2 separate regions of the Homo sapiens genome follow, and region 2 is linked to region 1. The links come from fine-mapping of genetic effects on gene expression. A gene starts in region 1. The other region holds a variant in brackets. All regions are shown on one strand. Distances are between the middles of the regions.

Region 1 (5,301 bases):
GGGGCAGCCTCCGGCCCCGACGGGCCTTCTTCCCGCGCGCGGCCTTGGATCCAGTGGGCGCCTGGCCCTTGGCCTCGCCTGCCCTGGCATGGGCCCCGGCGCCCGCGCTCCCCTTCTTCTTCCTGCTTCCTGCGGCGTCGTCCTGGGCCGAGCCCCGGCTCCCGGCTTTCTTCTCGGGAGTGACGCCCCGGCCTCGGCCTCGGCCGCCCGCGCGGGTTTTGCGGGCCCCGGAAGCGGTGGGAGGCGCGCCGGCCGGAGTCAGGCCCCTGGGGGCCGTGCGCGCCCTCTTGGCCCGGGGCTTCCTGGATGCCCTGTCCTCCGGCTCCGACGCCTCGCTCTCGGTGTCCTCCGACTCCTCCTCGGACTGTTCGTCCGAAGCCTCCTCCGACCCCTCGTTGGACCCCATGTTCTCCCGGGCGGCCAGGAGCGCCAATACCTCCCCCAGTTTGCCTTTGGGGTATTTGTACTTCCCGCCTTCCCAGGCGTTTTCTTTTTCCTCCTTCATCACCTCCGCCATGTCCTGGGCAGCCAGGAGCGCCACCAGCTCCAGAAGACCCCCTTCGTCCTCACGGTGCTCGCTCCAGCCCCCGAAGAGGCCACGCCCAGCCTTCTTCGCCTGGGGAGGGAGATCCGGCTGCGCCAAGGTGGAAATGCACTCCCGGAGGTCCCCGTCATCCCCGGCCTTGCGCAGGACCACGGCGTCCACCTCGCGGCCCGCCTCTTCCACCTTCACGCGGGTCCCGTTAGTGTCCTTGGACATGACGGACAAGACCTGTCGGAGGGGGTCTCGCTTGTCTTTCTCGTCGCTCCAGCCCAGCGACTCGATAACAGAAGCGATTTTCAACATCTCCTCCCGGGCCCAGGGGTCCGACGGGTCGGTATAGGCCACAATGGCCACGAACTCAGGATTATCCAACTCCTCTGTTTCTTGGTCCCCACTTTCCTGCGAGTCGCTCTCCGAAGTGTCGCTGTCCACCGGCTCCTCGTCCGGGGTGTCTCTCACAGCCAGCAGGGCCACTAAGTCGGGGACACCATTTTTGTCTTCTTTGGTGTTCAAGCGGATGGATTCGGCCCCAGCTGGCTCCTTCTCTGCCTCTTCTTTCTTCGATTTGTCGGTGACGGTGACCAGAGCCAAGAACTCGCGGGGACCGTCTTCTTCCCCCTCGGAGTTGCAGGGCGCCCACTGCCTAACCAGCTCCCTGGCAGCGGCCTGCAGCGTGGCGTACAGCGCGCTCTGGTCCTCTTCTCCGCTCAGGTCGCCCTGGTCGATCTCCTCGATCACGATGCCCAGGCTCTCGTCGGAAGAGTCCTCGGCCTCACTCCTCGCGGGAGCAGACGGCCGTCCTCCTCGGCTTCTCTTCTTGCCCTTCTGGGTCAACCTGTTGCGTCTGGTTCTGTTTCTGCGACCCCGACGGCCCCTCCTTGGGTTCCTGGCTGCCCCAAGAAGCGAGCCAGCCTGCCCTGTTACCTCCCCAGAATCCTGGGCCTGCGTCTCCGAAGCGGGAGGGGTGGGTGCCTCCCCGGGGGTCCCAGCCTCCGCGGCCTGCGTGGGCCCGTCATCCAGCAGCAGGCGTCTCATCTGCCTCAGGACCCTCGTGTCCTGCGCACGGTCCTTCCACAGAACCCTCCAGACCCCATCCTTGCCTGGGATCTCCCTGGGAATGGCAGCGTGATTGACGTCCTCCACAAACTCCACCAGGGCGGCCTGGGCCTTCTCGTTCATCAAAGCCTTCATGTGTCGCAACCTGAACGTGCCCAGGGGCAGGAGGGTCGGCTGCAGGACGGCTTCGACGTCTGCCTGCTCCAGGCCCTCCGGGATGCCGGTGACCAGCAGGGCCCTGTGCGCGTCCACGTCCAGGCTCCGGCACCAGTCCTGCAAAAGGCTCATGGCCATGGTGCAGCCCCCTTGGCGCTGATCTTGGGGCAGCAGGGAGCCCGAGATAGGGGTGGGCTGCAGCGCACGGTGTCAATGCAACCCTAGAAAGCCACTTGCAGGGCTTAGAGTCCCGGTTCCGGTGAATGTGGCAAGGCTGGAGTGGGGCTCGGGGCTCGGGGGCTCTAGCTGCCTGCTGGCCGGCTGGACGCAGTGACCTTCCCCCGGGACCCCTCTCCAGAGCTGTCTGAGGATCCGCGGGGGGCTTACGTGTCTGCTTTCCAGGACAGCTCCCTCCCTCTCTCCCTGACACAGGCCTGAGTGACTCGGCACCGCAGCCAGGTGCAGGGGGGCGGCGCCGAGTGCACCTGGAGAGGCGTGGGAGGTAGCAGCCGCAGCTTGCCTGGCGCTCGCGCCGCGTCTGAGCGCGCACCCTGGGCCTGAATCTCAGCAGTTCCGCTGCGACGCGGCTGCTCGCGCGTGCGCCTGCGCAGAGGGAGCCGCACACCCTCCCCTGTCCCCCGCCCAACCGTCTCCATGGCAACGGTGCAGCCTTGAGCTGGGGTCTGCGTCGCTGTGGCCTGAGACGCTTTTCTTAAAGGTCCCGATGACAAGGACTTGGGGCCTGGAAGCACCACTTTCATTAACCAGCAAAAAACAAGGCCGAAACCACAGAGGGCCAGAAATCACTCAAGGATACCCGACCTCATTCAGGGGATAGAGGCCTCCTTCCAGAGGGTACCGGCATCACTGGGGGTTACAATTCCCCCTTCCAGGGGCCAGGTGGAATTCAGGATTATATAGGCCTAAATCAAAGGGCACTGGCCTTGCAGCGTAGGACCAGGACTTACTCGGGATACTGGCCTCATTCACAGTATATGGGTCTCAGTATCAAATAGGGGGGCCCAGGCACCACCTGTGAGCAAGACACCATTCAGGGTATATGGGCCTCACTTGCAGGGTACAGGCCCCACTCGATGGGACCGGCCCTCACTCCCATACACGTTCCTGTATTCTGAACTATGCATGCACAATAAATCCTGTGGTTTTGCACACGCTTTGAGCATATGTATGATTGTGAGACCAGGCATGAATTTTGCAAGAAAGCATTTCCCTTGACTGGGACAGCAGACTGGGGCGTGTGAACGTCAGTCATAGCTACTGTAAACATGCATTTGCTTCTCTGTCCCTTGTTGGCCATGAGGCTGTCCCCTACTCTATATGAATCTGGCTCTGTAGACCAGCTGGTAGGTTTATATCTCAACCATCATCCCTACCTCAAAGGGTTTTGTTTTTTTGTTGTTGTTTGTTTTGGAGATGGAGTCTTGCTCTGTCACTCAGGCTGGAGTGCAATGGCACAATCTTGGTTCACTGCAACTTCCGCCTCCCATGTTCAAGCGGTTCTCCTGCCTCAGCCTCCTGAGTAGCAAGGATGACAGGCCTCCCAAGTAGCTGGGATTATAGGCATACACCATCACGTCTGGCAAGTTTTTGTATTTTTTGTAGAGATGGGTTTTTACCATGTTACCCAGGCTGGTCTCAAACTCCTAACCTCAAGTGATCTGCCCGCCTCAGCCTCTGAAAGTGCTGGGATTACAGGATTACATGGTGAGCCACCATGCCTGGCCTCAAAGGGTTCTCATGAGGATTAAAGGGAATAATCCAGGAAAGCATTTAGAAGAGCAGCTGGCCCACAGCTGGTGCTCCATGAAAGATGGCTAAGAGAAGTATTTGTTGAGAACTTACCATTATAAAAGCATCTGTTTTGTTGGTTTGTTTTTGAGATGGAGTCTTGCTCTGTCGCCCAGGCTGGAGTGCAATGGAGCAATCTCGGCTCACTGCAACCTCCACCACCCGGGTTAAAGCCATTCTCCTGCCTCAGCCTCCCGAGTAACTGGGACTACAGGCATGCACCACCATGCCTGACTAGTTTTTTGTTTGTTTGTTTGTTTGAGAGAGAGTCTCGCACTGTCACTCAGGCTGGAGGGCAGTGGCGTGATCTTGGTTCACTGCAACCTCCGCCTCCCGGCTTCAAACCATTCTCCAGCCTCAGCCTCCCAAGTAGCTGAGATTACAGGTGCCCGCCACCACGCCCAGCTAATTTTTTGTATTTTTAGTAGAGACGGGGTTTCACTATGTTGGGCAACCTTGTCTCAAACTCCCAACCTCGTGATCCGCCCGCCTCGGCCTCCCAAAGTGCTGGGATTACAGGTGTGAGCCACCGTGCCCGGCCTAGTTTTGTATTTTTAGTAGATGGATTTTCACCATGTTGGCCAGGCTGGTCTGGAACTCCTGACCTCGGGTGATCTGCCGGCGTCGGCCTCCCAAAGTGCTGGGATTACAGGCACGAGCCACCGTGCTCAGCCCAAAGCATCTGTTAATAAACAAATAAATAGGAAACCAAAACACCTCGAGTTTTTTGTTTTTGCCACCAGGCCCAACCCCTTACTTTTGTGTTTGGATTTTTTTATGTTTAAGGAGAGTTTAACTGCAAGGTTACCACAGCAACTGGGCAAACCGCTTACTCACTCCTATTTTCCCCCACTTTTTCCTCCTCTGATCTTCCTGATCCACAGATGGATGTGATGTGACTCTTTTCTCCAGAGCAGCGTTGTCCAGCAGGAATAGAATGCCAGCCCCAAATTCGAACCGCACGTGCAATGTTAAAACTCCTAGTTGCAGCCAGCCAACACTGACCTCAGGTGGTCCACCCACCTCAGCCTCCCAAAGTGCTGGGATTACAAAGTGTCATTTTTGACATTTGAATCTCCAATCTAGGCTGGGCATGGTAGCGCACGCCTGTAATCCCAGCTACTTGGAGGCTGAGGCAGGAGAATCACATGAACCTGGGAGGCAGAGGTTGTTGCATTGAGCCGAGATTGCGCCACTGCACTCCAGCCTGGGAGACAGAGCAAGACGCTGTCTCAAAAAAACCAAACCAAACCAAACCAAACCAAACCAAAACAAAACAAAAAACGAGCTGCTTTTTCTGCATCTATTGATCTAAAAAAAGAAGAAATATGGTGACTCACCATGTAATCCTGTAATCCCAGCACTTTCAGAGGCTGAGGCGGGCAGATCACTTGAGGTTAGGAGTTCGAGACCAGCCCGGGCAACATGGTGAAAACCTATCTCTACAAAAAATACAAAATTTCCTAGGGGGCCACCTTCAATAAATAGAAAAGAGGGAAGAAAAATGAATTTTAAGAATAGATTTTGGCCAGGCGCAGTGGCTCACGCCTGTAATCCCAGCACTTTGGGAGGCCGAGGCAGGCAGATCACTTGAGCCCAGGAGTTTGAGACCGGCCTGGCCAACATGGCAAAACCTCGTCTCTACAAAAAATACAAAAGTTAGCCAGGCTTAGTGACACACATCTGTAGTCCCTGATACTCAGGAAGCTGAGGTAGGAGGATTGCTTCAGCCCAGG
Region 2 (5,371 bases), 73 kb before region 1:
GCCACTGTGCCCAACCACTGCTCTGATTTCTGTCCCTATAGTGTTTTTTTAGTTTTATGTAAAAGGAAGTATATAGTGTGTGTCCTTTTTGGTCTGACTTCTTTGACTCCGCATAACGCTTCTGAGGTTCACCGATGTTGCTGTACGCATCTGAGGTTCATTCCTTTTTTTTTTTTTTTTTTTTGAGACGGAGTCTTACTCTGTCACCAAACTGTGACAGGAGGAGTGCTGTGGCACAATCTTGGCTCACCACAACCTCCGCCTCCCCGGTTCAAGCAATTCTTCTGCCTCAGCCTCCCGAGTAGCTGGGACTACAGGCACCCGCCACCACGCCCAGCTAGTTTTTGTCTTTTTAGTAGAGACAGGGTTTCACCATGTTGGCCAGGATGGTCTCGATCTCTTGACCTCATGATCTGCCCGCCTCAGCCTCCCAAGGTGCTGGGAGGGCGACCGCGCCCGGCCAGTACATTCTTTTTTGTTGCTAGGTCATATTCTGTTGCATGAATACATTGCAGTTTGTTTATTCATTCACCTGTCGTCGGCCATCGAGTTGTTTCTAGTTTTTGGTTCTTAGAAATAAAGCTGCTGCCGGGCGCCGTGGCTCACGCCTGTAATCCCAGCACTTTGGGAGGCCGAGACAGGCGGATCACGAGGTCAGGAGATCGAGACCATCCTGACTAACACAGTGAAACCCCGTCTCTACTAAAAATACAAAAAAAATTAGCTGGGCGTGGTGGCGGGCGCCTGTAGTCCCAGCTACTAGGGAGACTGAGGCAGGAGAATGGCGTGAACCCTGGAGGCGGAGCTTGCAGTGAGCTGAGATCGCGCCACTGCACTCCAGCCTGGGTAACAGAGTGAGACTCCGTCTCAAAAAATAAAAAAGAAAAAAAAAAAAAGAAAGCCTGAAGGGCGACTGAAAGTCAGAGGGAACAGCAGGTGAAGAGCTGTGTGCTCTGTGCCCACCTAGGCACATATGCCCACCCCTTCCCTGTTCCCCCCAACTTCCTGCCCCATCAGCCAGGGGTCCCACAGCACCAGAGGGCACATGCAGCTGGGATATACGTATATATATGTTTTTTTCCTTTTTGAGACGGAGTCTTACTCTGTCGCCCAGGCTGGAGTGCAGTAGCATGATCTTGGCTCACTGGAACCTCTGCCTCCCAGCTTTATGCTATTCTCCCACCTCAGCCTCCCGAGTAGCTGGGATTACAGGTGCGCAACACCACGCCCGGCTAATTTTTGTATTTTTAGTTGAGACGGGGTTTCACCATGTTGGCCAGGCTGGTCTCAAACTCCTAGCCTCAAGTGATCCACCTGCCTCAGCCTCCAAAAGTGCTGGGATTACAGGCGTGAACCACTGCACCTGGCCGGAATCACAAGTTATGTGTCGGTCACTCAGAGACTCAGAGACTGCCTTCAGAATCCCTGTTTCTCACCAAGGACTGTTGGGAGGAGGCCTCAGGGTGCTGTCTCCCTGGATCCACCAAGACCTCATTCCTCTTTGTGCTGTGCCAGCCCTCCATGTGGTGGAGCACGTGGGCTCTGGAGCTAGGCTGCCTGGGTTCAAATTCTGGCTCTATCACCCTGTGGCTGTGTGATCTTGGGTCAGTTCCTTCACCTCTCTGAGCCTTGGCTTCCTTCTCTGCAAAATGGCAGTTGTAATGAGACTTAACCTCATGGAGAGGTTGTGAGCAGTTCACGAGACCATGATAGGTATTGGCACAGAACCCAGGGATGGTAAATGCTCACAGTTATTAGAAAAGGCAGAGTGGGCCAGGCATGGTGGCTCATGCCTGTAATCCCAGCACTTTGGGAGGCCAAGGCGGGCAGATCACAAGGTCAGGAGATCGAGACCATCCTGGCTAACATGGTGACACCCTGACTCTACTAAAAATACAAAAAATTAGCCGGGCGTAGTGGCACGCGCCTTTAGTCCCAGCTACTTGGGAGGCTGAGGCAGGAGAATCACTTGAACCTAGGAGGCGGAGGTTGCAGTGAGCCAAGATCGCACCACAACACTCCAGCCTGGGCCACAGAGCGAGACTCCATCTCAAAAAAAAAAAAAAAAAAAAAAGCAGTGTGGTCTAGCTGTTTGTAGACTCAGTTCCGGTTCACATCCTGGCTCTGTTTACAAATCGTGTGGCTCTGTGCCTCAGTTTCCAAATCTGGAGAATGAGATTGTATCAGTCTCATGGTGTTGAGTCTTATGAGGATT[A/AAATT]AATTGTTTGTGTAAAATGCTTAGAATAGTGCCTGGTAGATATGATTATTCAATATGCACGAAGATTATTCTCTGCTCTAAGCCCCCACTTAGAACCAGAGCGTGTACTGCAGTTTCAAACAGGCCCTCAGAGTGCCACCCACCTCTGGCTTGTTTCTCAAGGAATCCTGAAGAATTTCTTCTGCCCAGCCGTTTACCAGAGAAATCATGCTCTATGACTCCGATGTCAGCTGGGGCCTCCCAGACTGAGAGAGACCCGAATCAGTGTGAGGAGCACAGAATGTGGTCAGAGGCCTGTTTTCAATTCCTGTTGTGCTTTGCTCTGTAGCCTTAGACAAGTTACTTAGCCTTTCTGAGCTTTACTTTCTTCATCCATAGAATGAGATGATGATCTTAATAATAGTACAGTTTGATAATCTAATCTCTTATCTGGTCTTTTTTTTTTTTTTGAGATGTAGGGGGGTATCACTCTGTCATCCAGGCTGGAGTGCAGTGGTGCAATCACAGTTCACTGCAGCCTTGATCTGCTGGCCTCAAGCGATCCTTCCACCTCAGCCTCCAGAGTAGCTGGGACTACAGGTGCATGCCACCGTGCCTAATTTTTTTTTTTTTTTTTTTAGTTTTTGTAGAGATAGGGGTCTTGCTGTGTTGACCAGGCTGGTTTTGAACTCCTGGCCTCAAGCAATTCTCCCACCTTGGCCTCCCAAAGTACTGGGATTACAGGCGTGACCCACTGCACCTAGCCCACTACAGAAGTATTGATGGGATTATAAGGGCTTCCCGCATCCCCCTGGGAAGTAAATTCTACAATATAAGGTATAGTCACTGTATCATTTTTCTAAAATCCAAAACTCTGAACCACATATACCCCTGAAACCACACCTGGCTGAGGGTTTTTATAAGGGATTGTGGACCTATAGGGCCATAACTCACAGGGTTGGCAGGATATGATGGGTTAATGATATGAAGGAATGTGGCATAGTGCCTGGAACACAAGATAGCTGTTACTGTTTTTGTTTCAGTTAAATTGTTTCACCTTTCACACCAGCCACTGGAAAATGACCTGACATCCTGAGAAGTCCGTAGGATAAAAGAAAGCTGTGTTTCCGCCGGGCGCGGTGGCTCACACCTGTAATCCCAGCACTTTGGGAGGCAGAGGCGGGCAGATTACGAGGTCAGGAGATCGAGACTATCCTGGCTAACACGGTGAAACCCCGACTCTACTAAAAATACAAAAAAATTAGCCAGGTGTGGTGGCAGGTGCCTGTAGTCCCAGCTACTTGGGAGGCTGAGGCAGGAGAATAGTGTGAACCCGGGAGGCGGAGCTTGCAGTGAGTCAAGATCACGCCACTGCACTCCAGCATGGGCAACAGAGAGAGACTCTGTCTCAAAAATAAATAAGTACATAAAAATAAAAATAAATGCAGTCCTGGAAGACTTCAGGCCATGGAAGCAGTTTTCAGTACTTGTTTTAGCAGCCACATCATTTTTCCAAATTAAATCTTACATGGATTTCCCCCCATATGTCAAGGGGCAGACTATGATTTCATTAGCATACATTTATTTTATGAGTTCATATTTGTACAAAAGAGCATCTCAATCACAAAGAACAATGAAGAGTTTTAGCTGAACCCCCTTTTGAAATCAGGGGTTTACAGAAGCCAGATGCAGCCCTCCAACAGCTGGCACATTCAATTTACTTGTGAATTTTTGCTTGGGATTTGCCCTACCAGTGATGTTTTCACTCAGCTAAGTAGCTTCAAATGGTGACAGTTTTGCATGACAACTTGCATTGGAGTCCCAGGATACACTTTGGTCCAGAAAATCTTGAAAGAGAAGTGGTAGGATTTTGATTTCATGGGCAACATTGAACAACCACGCATGTTGTGTATCACAAATATAAATGTTATACCCCTGAAATCCACAATAAGCACAAAATACAGTCTTCATGCTGCAATATGATAAGAAATGTCACACTATCCCTTATTATACAACGATTATGCCTTGATGGGAGAGCAGCATGCAACAAACACGCTGGAGGCTTTCGTAGCATTTATTCAAGCTCAGACTCTGGGATGCAATAACGAACACAGTAGTACAATATTCTGCGAGTGGGTATGCCCAGGCTGGGCATTTACAAGGAATAGAAAAATCAGGCCGGGCGTGGTGGCTCACGCCTGTAATCCCAACACTTTGGGAGGCCGAAGTGGGCGGATCACAAGGTCAGGAGATTGAGACCATCCTGGCTAATACGGTGAAACCCTGTCTCTACTAAAAATACAAAAATTAGCTGGGCGTGGTGGTGCGCACCTGTAGTCCCAGATACTCAGGAGGCTGAGGCAGGAGAATCACTTGAACCCAGGAAGCAGAGGTTGCAGTGAGCCAAGATCGTGCCACTGCACTCCAGCCTGGGCTACAGAAGGAGACTCCACCTCAAAAAAAAAAAAAAAAAAAAAAAAAGAATCAACAGAGAAGCTGGGCGCAGTGGCTTACACCTGCAATCCCAGCACTTTGGGAGACCAAGGCGGGAGATTGAGACCATCCTGGCCAACATGGTGAAACCCTTTCTCTAGTAAAAATACAAAATTTAGCTGGACGTGGTGGTTCATGCCTGTAATCCTAGCTACTAGGGAGGCTGAGGCAGGAGAATCGCTTGGACCAGGGAGTCAGAGGTTGCAGTGAGCTGAGATTGCACCTCTGCACTCCAGCCTGGTGACAGAGCGAGACTCTGTCTCAAAAAAAAAAGACGTTAGGAGTCTCTGACATTACAATTTGGTAGGCTGAGTCTTTGTGTTGTGTGTAAGTTACATTTTTGAAAAGAGATTCAGTCAAACCTTTGCAGATCCTTGAACTAACAAGTTTGCAAATTGACAGGTCCGTTGTCTCTGAGCAAAAGATCTGCCTACTCACATGTATTTGGATTTTACCTGATTTTTAAAATTCTTCTTCACCTCAGTGTTAACGTCGTTCATTGGTAACTCTTGAAAATGGCCTCTTAATGATTTACCTCCTTTTGGACCATTGCCCAGAAGCCTTGCCTCTTCTTTAGAGAGTGGAGTTCACTCCTCCTCACCAAGCCAGAGCTTCTGGAATTTAACTTGGGGAGACTCACACCCTCACCCCAGGCGCCAATCGGGGCAGAAGGGTCCCGCTTCT

What was found. PIP is the estimated chance that this variant, and not a neighbour inherited with it, causes the effect.
Region 2: its variant is the best candidate, but not a certain one, in a credible set for the expression of PNMA8B in fibroblasts (GTEx, PIP 0.73).

The regions. Positions count from the first base shown.
Region 1 is chr19:46,493,572-46,498,872 of GRCh38, forward strand. It overlaps PNMA8B (PNMA family member 8B), which reads right to left and starts at 2,296. Exons shown (of 1, transcript NM_020709.3): 1 at 1-2,296. The coding sequence starts at 1,894.
Region 2 is chr19:46,420,938-46,426,308 of GRCh38, forward strand. PNMA8C (PNMA family member 8C) reads right to left here. Exons shown (of 1, transcript NM_001386793.1): 1 at 3,760-5,371. Among named protein-coding and RNA genes, the nearest start is that of PNMA8C, 5.3 kb to the right of the region's middle. RefSeq lists enhancers at 2,523-2,572, 5,170-5,371. The variant A/AAATT (reference allele first, on the strand shown) is at 2,216.